Linked DNA regions of Homo sapiens. The protein of the gene in region 1 purifies or fractionates together with the protein of each later gene. This does not show direct contact. Each region holds a gene or a part of one and is shown on either strand. Other genes may lie near its edges.

Evidence for each region. The genes of interacting proteins can lie anywhere in the genome.
Region 2: the proteins of GPM6A (region 1) and ZDHHC18 purify together in Homo sapiens (affinity purification with mass spectrometry; 2 studies listed by BioGRID and IntAct, with this or other methods). This does not show direct contact.

Annotation. Positions count from the first base shown.
Region 1 is NC_000004.12:175,809,039-175,813,826, reverse strand, and holds the start of GPM6A (neuronal membrane glycoprotein M6-a), read left to right. Parts: upstream 1-1,562; 5' UTR 1,563-1,599; coding exon 1,600-1,636; intron 1,637-1,637; exon of another isoform or gene 1,638-1,967; intron 1,968-4,788. UniProt on the Homo sapiens protein: Involved in neuronal differentiation, including differentiation and migration of neuronal stem cells. Plays a role in neuronal plasticity and is involved in neurite and filopodia outgrowth, filopodia motility and probably synapse formation.
Region 2 is NC_000001.11:26,825,066-26,829,864, forward strand, and holds the start of ZDHHC18 (palmitoyltransferase ZDHHC18), read left to right. Parts: upstream 1-1,622; 5' UTR 1,623-1,739; coding exon 1,740-2,074; intron 2,075-4,799. UniProt on the Homo sapiens protein: Palmitoyltransferase that catalyzes the addition of palmitate onto various protein substrates, such as CGAS, HRAS and LCK. Acts as a negative regulator of the cGAS-STING pathway be mediating palmitoylation and inactivation of CGAS.

The DNA of each region.
Region 1 (4,788 bases):
AGAGGACTAAACATTCATTTATGAGAAATAAAGTGGAATGCAGTAATTGTGTTTCCTCTAAATAGCTGCTTTTGTAATATTTAGAGGGTGATGTGCAGCATGCTACTGGCCTGCTTTAAAGAATGCATGTGAAATACAAGCTATAATGCAAGAAACGTATGCTATGGATAATGAGGATGTGAGCTATTTTTCATTAAAGGCAGAGAGTTACAGTTATGTCTGTGTGTGTGTCCTTGTGTGTGTGTGTGCCTCTCCGTGTGTGTGCTTGTGTGTGTCTTTCTGTCCCTCTGTGTGTGTTTCTGTCCCTGTGTGTGTGTGTGCTGGCTGATTTGGAGATGAAGACAGAGGCAAGGATCCTTTCTTTCTACTCTAGGAAAGGTTTATGCTCCTTGAAAGAGATACTGTTTATTTTCTTGCTATACCTTTTGTGAAGTATTGAGACTCTTGGACTGTGCCCTGTCACTCAGTAGGCTGAAGTACAAATGCTAATTATCGCCAGACTGCAGCATTGTGATTTGCATTCCAAATCAGCTTGCAGATTCCCATTATAAATTGCTATCCTCTTGTTTCTTATCTAAAATTTGTTCCTCCCTTACATCACTCTTCTCATTCCCTAACACTGACCTTTAAAGAAATTCCCTTTCAAGAGATTCTCATTGGAAACCAGCAGCTTTCGTGGGCTATAATCATAACAATAAATAACAAAGACATCAATAGGGTTTTTCCTTCCAGTGGTTTTCTCCCTTTTACTTAAGAGTCATATGGCACTAAGTAAAATAATTACTTAAAACATGTATCTCTCAGGCTTAGAGCTTTATACTCACTCCTTTGACAGCCACGCTTCTATTTCTTTTTAAATCTCAAAGGTGTGGGATTACAAGTCCTGTCTTAGTAATAAACTTTTGCAGATAAACCCTGAGATGGTATAACTGCATCCTTTCTTGGCACCTTAAATCAAATTAACTAAATACTTAGTGAGGAGAGAAAAGGAAAACACAGTTTTTTTGCAACGTATCTGACTGGGTGAGAAGCCACTGCTGCAGCATAAAGAACCGACGGGAATCTGGGCTTTCCCACTCTGGAATGAAGGGGGGAATTACGGGTTGGTGGTCGGCTTCATGTTAGGAGGACACCCCTCCATCTGTTCACAGCTCAGCCTGTTTCCAATTTAAAGCCCAGATTTCAATACAAACCTCAATTTCTTTTCCCCATTTTAAATGCAAAGCAAGACTTGTGAATCATAGTGTCTCTGCTCCTGGGATTCAGACCAAATTTCCCCCCAAAATTCTCAGGCTATTTGTTTGAATACCTGCTTACAGTGGTACACAATGGGCAGCTTTGAGAAGAAAAATTGATAATCTTCACGGAAGAGTAATTTGAATGAAATTACACTTGACAGCCTGTCTCCAAGCAAACAAGAGGAACGAGGGAGCCTGAGCTAAGCTCTGAGGACTTGCCCAAGCCACTGCTGTTGGAGCTTCCCAGGAAAAAAAAAAAAAAAAAAAAAAAAAAAAAAAAAAAAAAACCCCCAGTTTTTCCAACATCTAATTGAGCTTTTGATTAATTCCGTGTACCAGATTCTACTGAAGAAAGGTAGCCATGGAAGAGAATATGGAAGAGGGACAGACACAAAAAGGTACTGTGCTAAAAGCGTTTATTTGTAACTAAGTAATTATTTTGCAGTTTCCTTGTTTGCTTTAGACACTTGCCAGTAAGGCTAATGAATGTTTCTCTCTTGGAAGGCATTTTGTTCCTTCCTCTCCTTTAGTCTGTTCCTCACTTGCAGTAATGTCTGGCACGAATGTTGTCATTATTTGCAAATCTTTCAGATATAAGTACCGAAATGCAGAGTCGAGTATTAGTGAGAAGAGCATTGCGGTATTGTAGTGAACTATTCCTTAGACCAGTCTTTGTTAACCTTCATTTATTTCGTGATTTCACACTTGCCGAGCTGGGTCAAGGGATCCCTAGTGTGAGCCACAAATACAATATTTGGAGTTAGTTAAAAATTTGGTGATGGAACCATTATCCATATCTTTGCATGGACATCTGATAGAACAAAGACCAAGACCATTAATTATCTTTTGATTGGTGCACCTTTTTAAAACAATCTTTAAAAAATAAAAACTAAAAACGAGGATGCAATATAGGTTTAAGCAGATGGAGCAAAAGTTCATAAATTTTCAGGGTGTATGGAAGCGTTAAGATTTTCCTTTCTATATAGTTGACTGTAATCAACTTCTGAGTAATAATGTTAAAGGAAATTTTTTTATGTGTTTTTAAAGCTTGTCTAGGTATATCTGGCTGTATGAGTTAAAGTGAAATTTCCATTTTTGAAGGTTGAAATGGTCAAATATTGGTAATTTGGAATGATTCAATCAACTCGAGAATTGTTTTAACGTGTCAAATGGTAGCTTCAGAGGGAGCTAGCTTTCACCCCAGATAGGCAGCGTTTCTCTCGTCTGCTGTCGGGCTTATGTAATGTCAGAGAAAATGGTCTCATTTTCTTAGTACTGAAGCAGTAACACAGGTAATACTACATAAAGGTAATATTCAAGAGTAGTGTTGAAAAAGATTCAGCTGTCAAAGTTAATTTCAAATGTATATAAAGGCACTTATCGTAAAAAACTGTATTTTATGTGATAAAATATATAGGGTGGAAGCACAGTATAGTTACCATATTTTTAGCCATTTAGCTATGCTGGGTTTCTTCTCTTAATGTACACACACATACTTTGAGGCATATATGGTGCATACACACACACACACACACGTAATAAAGGACCATCGATATTAAATACATGAAGGTTTTATATAAGCAAGAGATAATAGATAAGTTGATTTCCCAATTTTAGTCCTTAGTACCCTTATTCATGATAATCTGTAATAGAAACACAAAAATCTACATTAATAGCATGTGATCTATTTTTAAATTAAAAAACCTCAGCTCCCTTTATTATATGCACAAATAGCCCAAGTTTTCATCAGTGATTGTAAATGGGACATTTTAATGGTAATTTCTGTTCTTACAAGACATCTCAGTGGACTATTTTAACTTAGAATAAATTACCTTATGACAACATCTTTTTTGTAATACCTAATAATGATACTTATTGGCCGATCAATTTGCTTAAGGAAAGATAAACAGCATTTTAAATAGAGGAATGATATTCATTACACTAAATAAAACCTTGAGTTAAATCATGGATTGTGGTAACAGGTTGAATGTGTCTGAGCAAGCCTTGGTAGATGCGGGAACCAAGAAAAATGATGTAATTAGTTGTGATGTTTTTTTCTCAGGTAACACTGAAAAGCTTTCTTTTATGGGGGTGGAGGTGGCTATGCCGTGAGGGGAAGATTTCTGTCACAGTGGGTTTTTCCTCATTAATATATGCACCAGCAGCAGTGGTGGAAAGCAGTTTTAAATCAGAAAAAACGTTTAGTGGTCTATCAGTTTGTAAATGTATATGAATACAATATTTATGATTTAGGTTTTTTTCTTAATTGAGAAAAGAAGATGTAATTTTCTTCACTCTTGATCTTCTGTTCCTCTCAATTACGCCTATGACACCTTTTCTATATAAGTTTGTTGTTAGAAAGTTACATTTGAATCGAAATGCTCTGTCGATATGTGCGTGGGTTGTAACTGTGAAATTACTGGAGGAGCAATTTGACAAGCAGACAAAATCGTTACAGATTTTTCAAGAGTTTAGGTGGAGAGACTTAATGATCTGTCTAAAGAAAAGCAGCATTTTGTGTTAGTTCTTATCCTGTTTTTCTTAAACTGCATAGGATTTTCTTAAACAATAATTCAAATAGCACAGAGTTTTCTTCCATTTGCAAGAAGTAAGTGGCTTTTCAGTCTTTTCTTAAAATTTAGACCTTGTCTTTCCTGTTACATGTCACCAAGACTTAAAATTCACATCAGTGTTTACTCATATGACCTTGCAAATTCAACTAGAAGGTAAAATTCAGTGGATTCATTAATTAATTGCAATTTGCTATGTTCGAAAATATATATACTTGGTGTTTAAGCATTTAAAAAGATCATCCGTCTTAAGAAATATATTTTTCTTCATAGTGAGAGCCCACTCCCCTCTCAAGCTTTAAAAGACAATTGAGAATAGTCCTAACTTTTATCCTAATTTAAGCATATGTGTTCAGTCAGAGAGAGAGGATAATTTAACAGTATGGGTGACTTCACCCACCAGCCATTGTGTTCAATGAGCCCATGCCTGATGTGAAACTGAAATGGGGATCATTAATCTGTTGCTCCAGCAATTTCTGACACCCTCCCCAAAAGTGAGTATCTCATTATGCTGAGGGGAATCTAGTATTTTAAGAAACATATTTTTTGGTAAAACATGGCCTCTAAATGAAAGCCACTTACTTCATCTTGTGTGCAGCCAAAACAATGATATTCTAGTATAGAAAAAAAAAAAGGAAAAAAAGAAAAGAGTGTTTTGAATTTGGTCTTTACTATGGCCATAATAAACCTAGCATCATCTGTCACCAAAATCAAGAGCCATTGTCACAAAATCATGGCAACAAGGACCCCAGTTACTACAGAGGGGTTGAGCAAAGTGAATAAAGATATTTTGATGAAGATTTAACAGGTAGGCGTTTATGACTTGTAGCCATGCAACTGTTTCTAGAACATTTTGCCAAATCTTACGAGAAAATACGTAAATGATTTTTGGGTTTCTAATTAGGAGTGAATTGGTGAATACACATTCGGGTGGCCAGACAAGTGGGTGACCATCTCTTCATGGACAGCCCTAATGAAGG
Region 2 (4,799 bases), on another chromosome or scaffold:
CGGCTTCCTACTCCTCCCCATTGTATATTTTTACTTCCTTTTTTACTTTCTCCTAGTCTCCAGTTCTTTTTTTCCTTGCACTTTTCCTTAGGTTTTACAGTAACCACAGTGTGACAGACATACCCTAAGCTGACCCCCAATGATTCCTGCCTCCTGGTATTTACGCCTTGTGTGATTCCCTTTTCTTGAGTGCAGATGGCTCCTGTGCTTTGCTTTTAACCATAGGAGATGGCAATGATGATGGGATGCCACTCTGTCACATATATAGTAAGTTATATAAAACTCTATCATCATAGTCTGGAGCTAGAGACCCTCATTGTCAGTTTCAAGAAACTAAGTGGCTATGTAGGAGAAACCTGCATGGCAAGGAAATGTGATAATCTCTAGGAACTGCAGGTGGCTTTTGGATCCTGAGAGAGGCCTCCAGCAGACACCCAGCAAAAATCCCAGGCCCTCCTCAGTTATACAGTCACCCAGCAAAAATCCCAGGCCCTCTTCAGTTAAACAGTCGCAAGGAAGTTAATTCTGCCAATAACCCAAATGGGCTTGCAAGTGGATTCTTCCCTGGCTGAGTCTCCAGATGAGAATGCAGCCTGATTGCAGCCTTGTGAGACTAAGCAGAGGACCCAGCTAAGCTGTTCTCTGGCTCCTGACCTGGAACCTGTTAGATAACGTTTGTTTTTTGTTTTTTTTGAGACGGAGTCTTGCTCTGTCACCAGGCCGGGTGCAATGGCACAATCTCGGCTCACTGCAACCTCCACCTCCTGGGTTCAAGCAATTCTCCTGCCTCAGCCTCCCGAGTAGCTGGGACTATAGATGCCGTGCCACCATGCCCAGCTAATTTTTTATTTTTAGTAGAGACGGGGTTTCACCATATTGGCCAGGATGGTCTCTCTCGACCTTGTGATCCACCCACCTCGGCCTCCCAAAGTGCTGGGATTACAGGCGTGAGACACCGCGCCCGGCCGATAATGTTTGTTTTAAGCCTTAAATTTGTGGTAACTTGTTACACAGCAGTAGAAAATGAATACTCCCAGAATTCCTGAAAAAACACTGGGGCCCTCAGGCATGACCCCTCTACATTATGTGCTACCTAGGAAAATCTGGGCCTGGGCCCAGGACACAGAACTTGGTGAACGAGGCCAGAGGGTGTGCCACACACCTCCAGTGGGCACTCTGGACTTCAAGGTAGAAGAGGTCCTGGCTTTCAAAGCAAATCGTGTGCCCCACCTCCCCGCGCCTGCCTGCCTCTGCAAATGCCTGTCAGTTCGACCCTCAGAGATGGGCGAAGCCTGGGGAATTACAGACTGCCAGAAGTAGATCACGAAGTCCACCACCTGAATCTCGGCGTTTGGCACCGTGCCTGGTACACAGTGGACGCCCAACAAACGGCTTGCTTGCAGAACAGAAAGAGCCCTCGAGTGCGCGTCTGCTGGCCCCCTCTTTGTGCAGAAGGGAAAAGGGAGACTGGGAGGGCCGGGGACCTGCGGGGCCCCGCCGCGGGTCAGAGCTGGGCCTCCGGCCAAGCGCCATCCCGGGCCCAGGCGGAGGGGGCGCTGCGGCGGGAGGCCGCGGCGGGCGGTGGCGGCGGGCCGGGGGCGGAGCGATGGCGGGGCCGCCCCAGTGAGTGAGCGAGCGAGCGCCGCGCGCGCCGCCGCTGCCACCTCCGCTGCTCGGCCCGGTCCCGGAGTGGCCCGGCCGGCCCGCGGGGCGCGGAGCCGAGGCCCGCGGCTGGCTGCATGAAGGACTGCGAGTACCAGCAGATCAGCCCCGGGGCCGCCCCGCTGCCCGCCTCCCCGGGGGCGCGCCGTCCCGGCCCCGCCGCGTCCCCGACTCCGGGCCCCGGGCCCGCGCCGCCCGCCGCCCCCGCCCCGCCGCGCTGGAGCAGCAGCGGCAGCGGCAGCGGCAGCGGGAGCGGGAGCCTCGGCCGCCGCCCACGGCGCAAGTGGGAGGTGTTCCCGGGTCGCAATCGCTTCTACTGCGGCGGCCGCCTCATGCTGGCCGGCCACGGCGGCGTCTTCGCGCTCACGCTGCTGCTCATCCTCACCACCACCGGCCTCTTCTTCGTCTTTGAGTGAGTTCCGCTGCCTCGGCGCCCCCTCCCAGCCCCCTGCCGCGCACCCCACCTTCCCAATCCCTGCTGGGCACTCCGTGCCTTCCCCTTCGCCTCCCTGGTCCTCATCCTCCCCGCCCCTTTGGGATCCTCCTCGGGCCTCTTGTCTGCCCCCCTGGCCCCTGCGCACCCCCATCCCCGCCAGATGCCCCATCCTCCTTGGTCCATTTGGGTACCCCATCCGCGCTGGTGCCCTCCACCCTCCCAGCCCCTCCATTCTCCCTGACCCCACCCTGGCACCTGTCTGCCTGCCACTGCCAGGAACACCAGCCTCCATGCCCCTCCACGGCCCCCATCCTCGCTGCCCTCTCAGAACCTGCCCCAGGGCTTCTTGAACAGGCCCCTCCTGCTCACCCATCCCTGGACCATCTCTTGCCAACCCCCCAAGTTCTTTCTGACCCTTGTATCCCTTCCTGACCACTTCTAGATCTTGTGTGTCCTTTGGCTGTGCACACCCACCATAAACATCCTAGTCATCCTCGCTGCCCTCTCCGGGTCCCTCCAGGGTCCCCTCCTTTTCTCTAGTCTCAGACACCAACCCCGCTTTTGCTTCCCCTCAGCCACGCACACCCTAGGCCCCAAGGCATCTTTTCTCAAAATCTTTGGGCCTCTCGGGCCCCCTTTCCTTCTCCAGAACCTTCCTTAGGTTCTCCAGAGCTTCCTGTCCTTCCCTCAGATCCCGCCCGCCTCCACCCAGCCGGCTCCCAGGCCCCTGGCCCCCCTGCTGACCACCTGGCTTTCTTTCCCTGCTCAACATTCTGGAACGTCCCTCTGGCCTGTTCCACATCAGCAACAGCTGCGGTGCCTTGTTGTTTTTCAGGAAAGACTTCGGAGTGCTTTCGTGTGACAGGTCATATTTGCCCCCCTAGGTTTTTGTCCTCTTCATATCCCCCGGTGACCCAGGATTGGCCCACACATAATCTCCATTTTATGGATGGAGGGTCATATATTTGTATTAGAAGTTTTCCACCCACCTCTGAGCCACCTGCACTGTGATTCCTTGCACACACACTCACACGCCCACCCACCCACCCTTGCTTCATAAGCCCTGCTGTCCCCTCCCAACTCCCCATCCTTTGTGGTTGTTCCTCTTAATTATACAGTGTAGTTAAGAACTCTAACAGACCTGGTTCAAATCCCAGCTCCACCACCCACTAATTGCGTGACCTCAGGGCAGTCACTTCACCCCCTCAGTGCCCCAGTTTCCTCATCAGTAAAATGGGATTTATAATAGTACCCACCCCGTAAGGTTGTCCTGAGGGTGGCATGAGGTCACACATGCAAGCTTTTAGCCCAGTAACAAGCACACTATGTTGGCTGCTATTAGTACTTGTGTTGTCTTTATCAAAAAACACTTCCCAAGGGCATGTGGCCATGGTAAGGCTATCATAGAGACACCCGCCCCCAGGTACCCTTTCTAGCTGCCAGATCATGTATCTGCAACTTTGGGTTTCCCCTTGAAGCAAGGTGAAGACTTCCTATAAATTAGCTTCTCCCTTTACCCTTTAACCACACACTCTGCCCTTTTTTTTGAGTAGGGTGGATAAAAAGTTCAGGGATGATTTACAAGCAGAAGCTCTGGGGGGCCCAGAGCTCAGCTCTGGGCTGAGTTTCAGATCCACTTCCCTGGGCTGGCCACATGAGTGTTTTGGAAATGCCTTTTCTAGTATCCCCTGGGCTGCCCTCTCAGTCCCCACACCCAGGGCTGCAGCCGAGGCAGGAGGAAGCAGTACTTGCCGTGGTTGACCCACATGACCCTGCAGTGTGATATCTGGCCTAACTTCTGAACTAGAAGCAGGACCTTCTCTGGGTTGACCGGGTATCTTCACTGGTGACTGTTTTGTCCCCAGCGAGGGAGAAAGCAAGGACTTCTGGGTTTGGGGAGAGCTCGTGAACCATGTTGCAGTTTGTCCCCGCTTGTCCTCATTGGGGGCTGGTAGATTGGCAGAAGAGTTTGGGTTTGGGCCGAGAGCTCACCTGGGTCTGGACTGGATGCTCCCCATTGCTCTGGGAAAAGGTAAGGTGCTCTCTAAGCCTTTCCTGCTATGAATGGCTTTGCTTCTTTGTTTGGCTTGGTGGATTGTTGCACAGGCCTCCAGCAGGGCTCCCAACTTCTGCCTTACTTCTCGCCCCCACACAACAGCCAGAGTGCCCTTTTGATTCTAACTCAGGCCTGAATCCTCCCTGGCCTCTGTCCCCTGCTGTCTTCTGTCCCCGTCTTCCCTCCAGGCATGTCATCCTCCGTGCACACTCCTACCTCTGGGCCAGTGCTTGGAATCCCCTTCCTGCAGGTGGCCTCATGGCTCACTCTCTCACATTAGGCCTCCCCTGTCCATCCGCACAGCATAGCAAACCACTCCCCTCCTGCACCTCTCTTCTCCCCTCATTTATCGCTCTCTGAAGCATTTGCCACCACCTGACATATTATGGTATACTTGTTAGTTTCTGGTCTTTGCCCATGAGAGCAGGACATTCTCCTCTGTTGCACCCTTAGTGCCTAGAACTCGCACCTGGTATGCAGTAGGTGCTCAATACTTATTGAATGAATGAATTGACAGTGTATTTGAATTAATTGACAGTGTATTTGCTGGGAGGCTGGAAACCCTAGTTCTGTCATTGGCTGGCTAGATGACCTTGAACCTAGCTGTGGGCCTGGGAGAGCTGTTAGCCTCTGGCAAATCAGGAG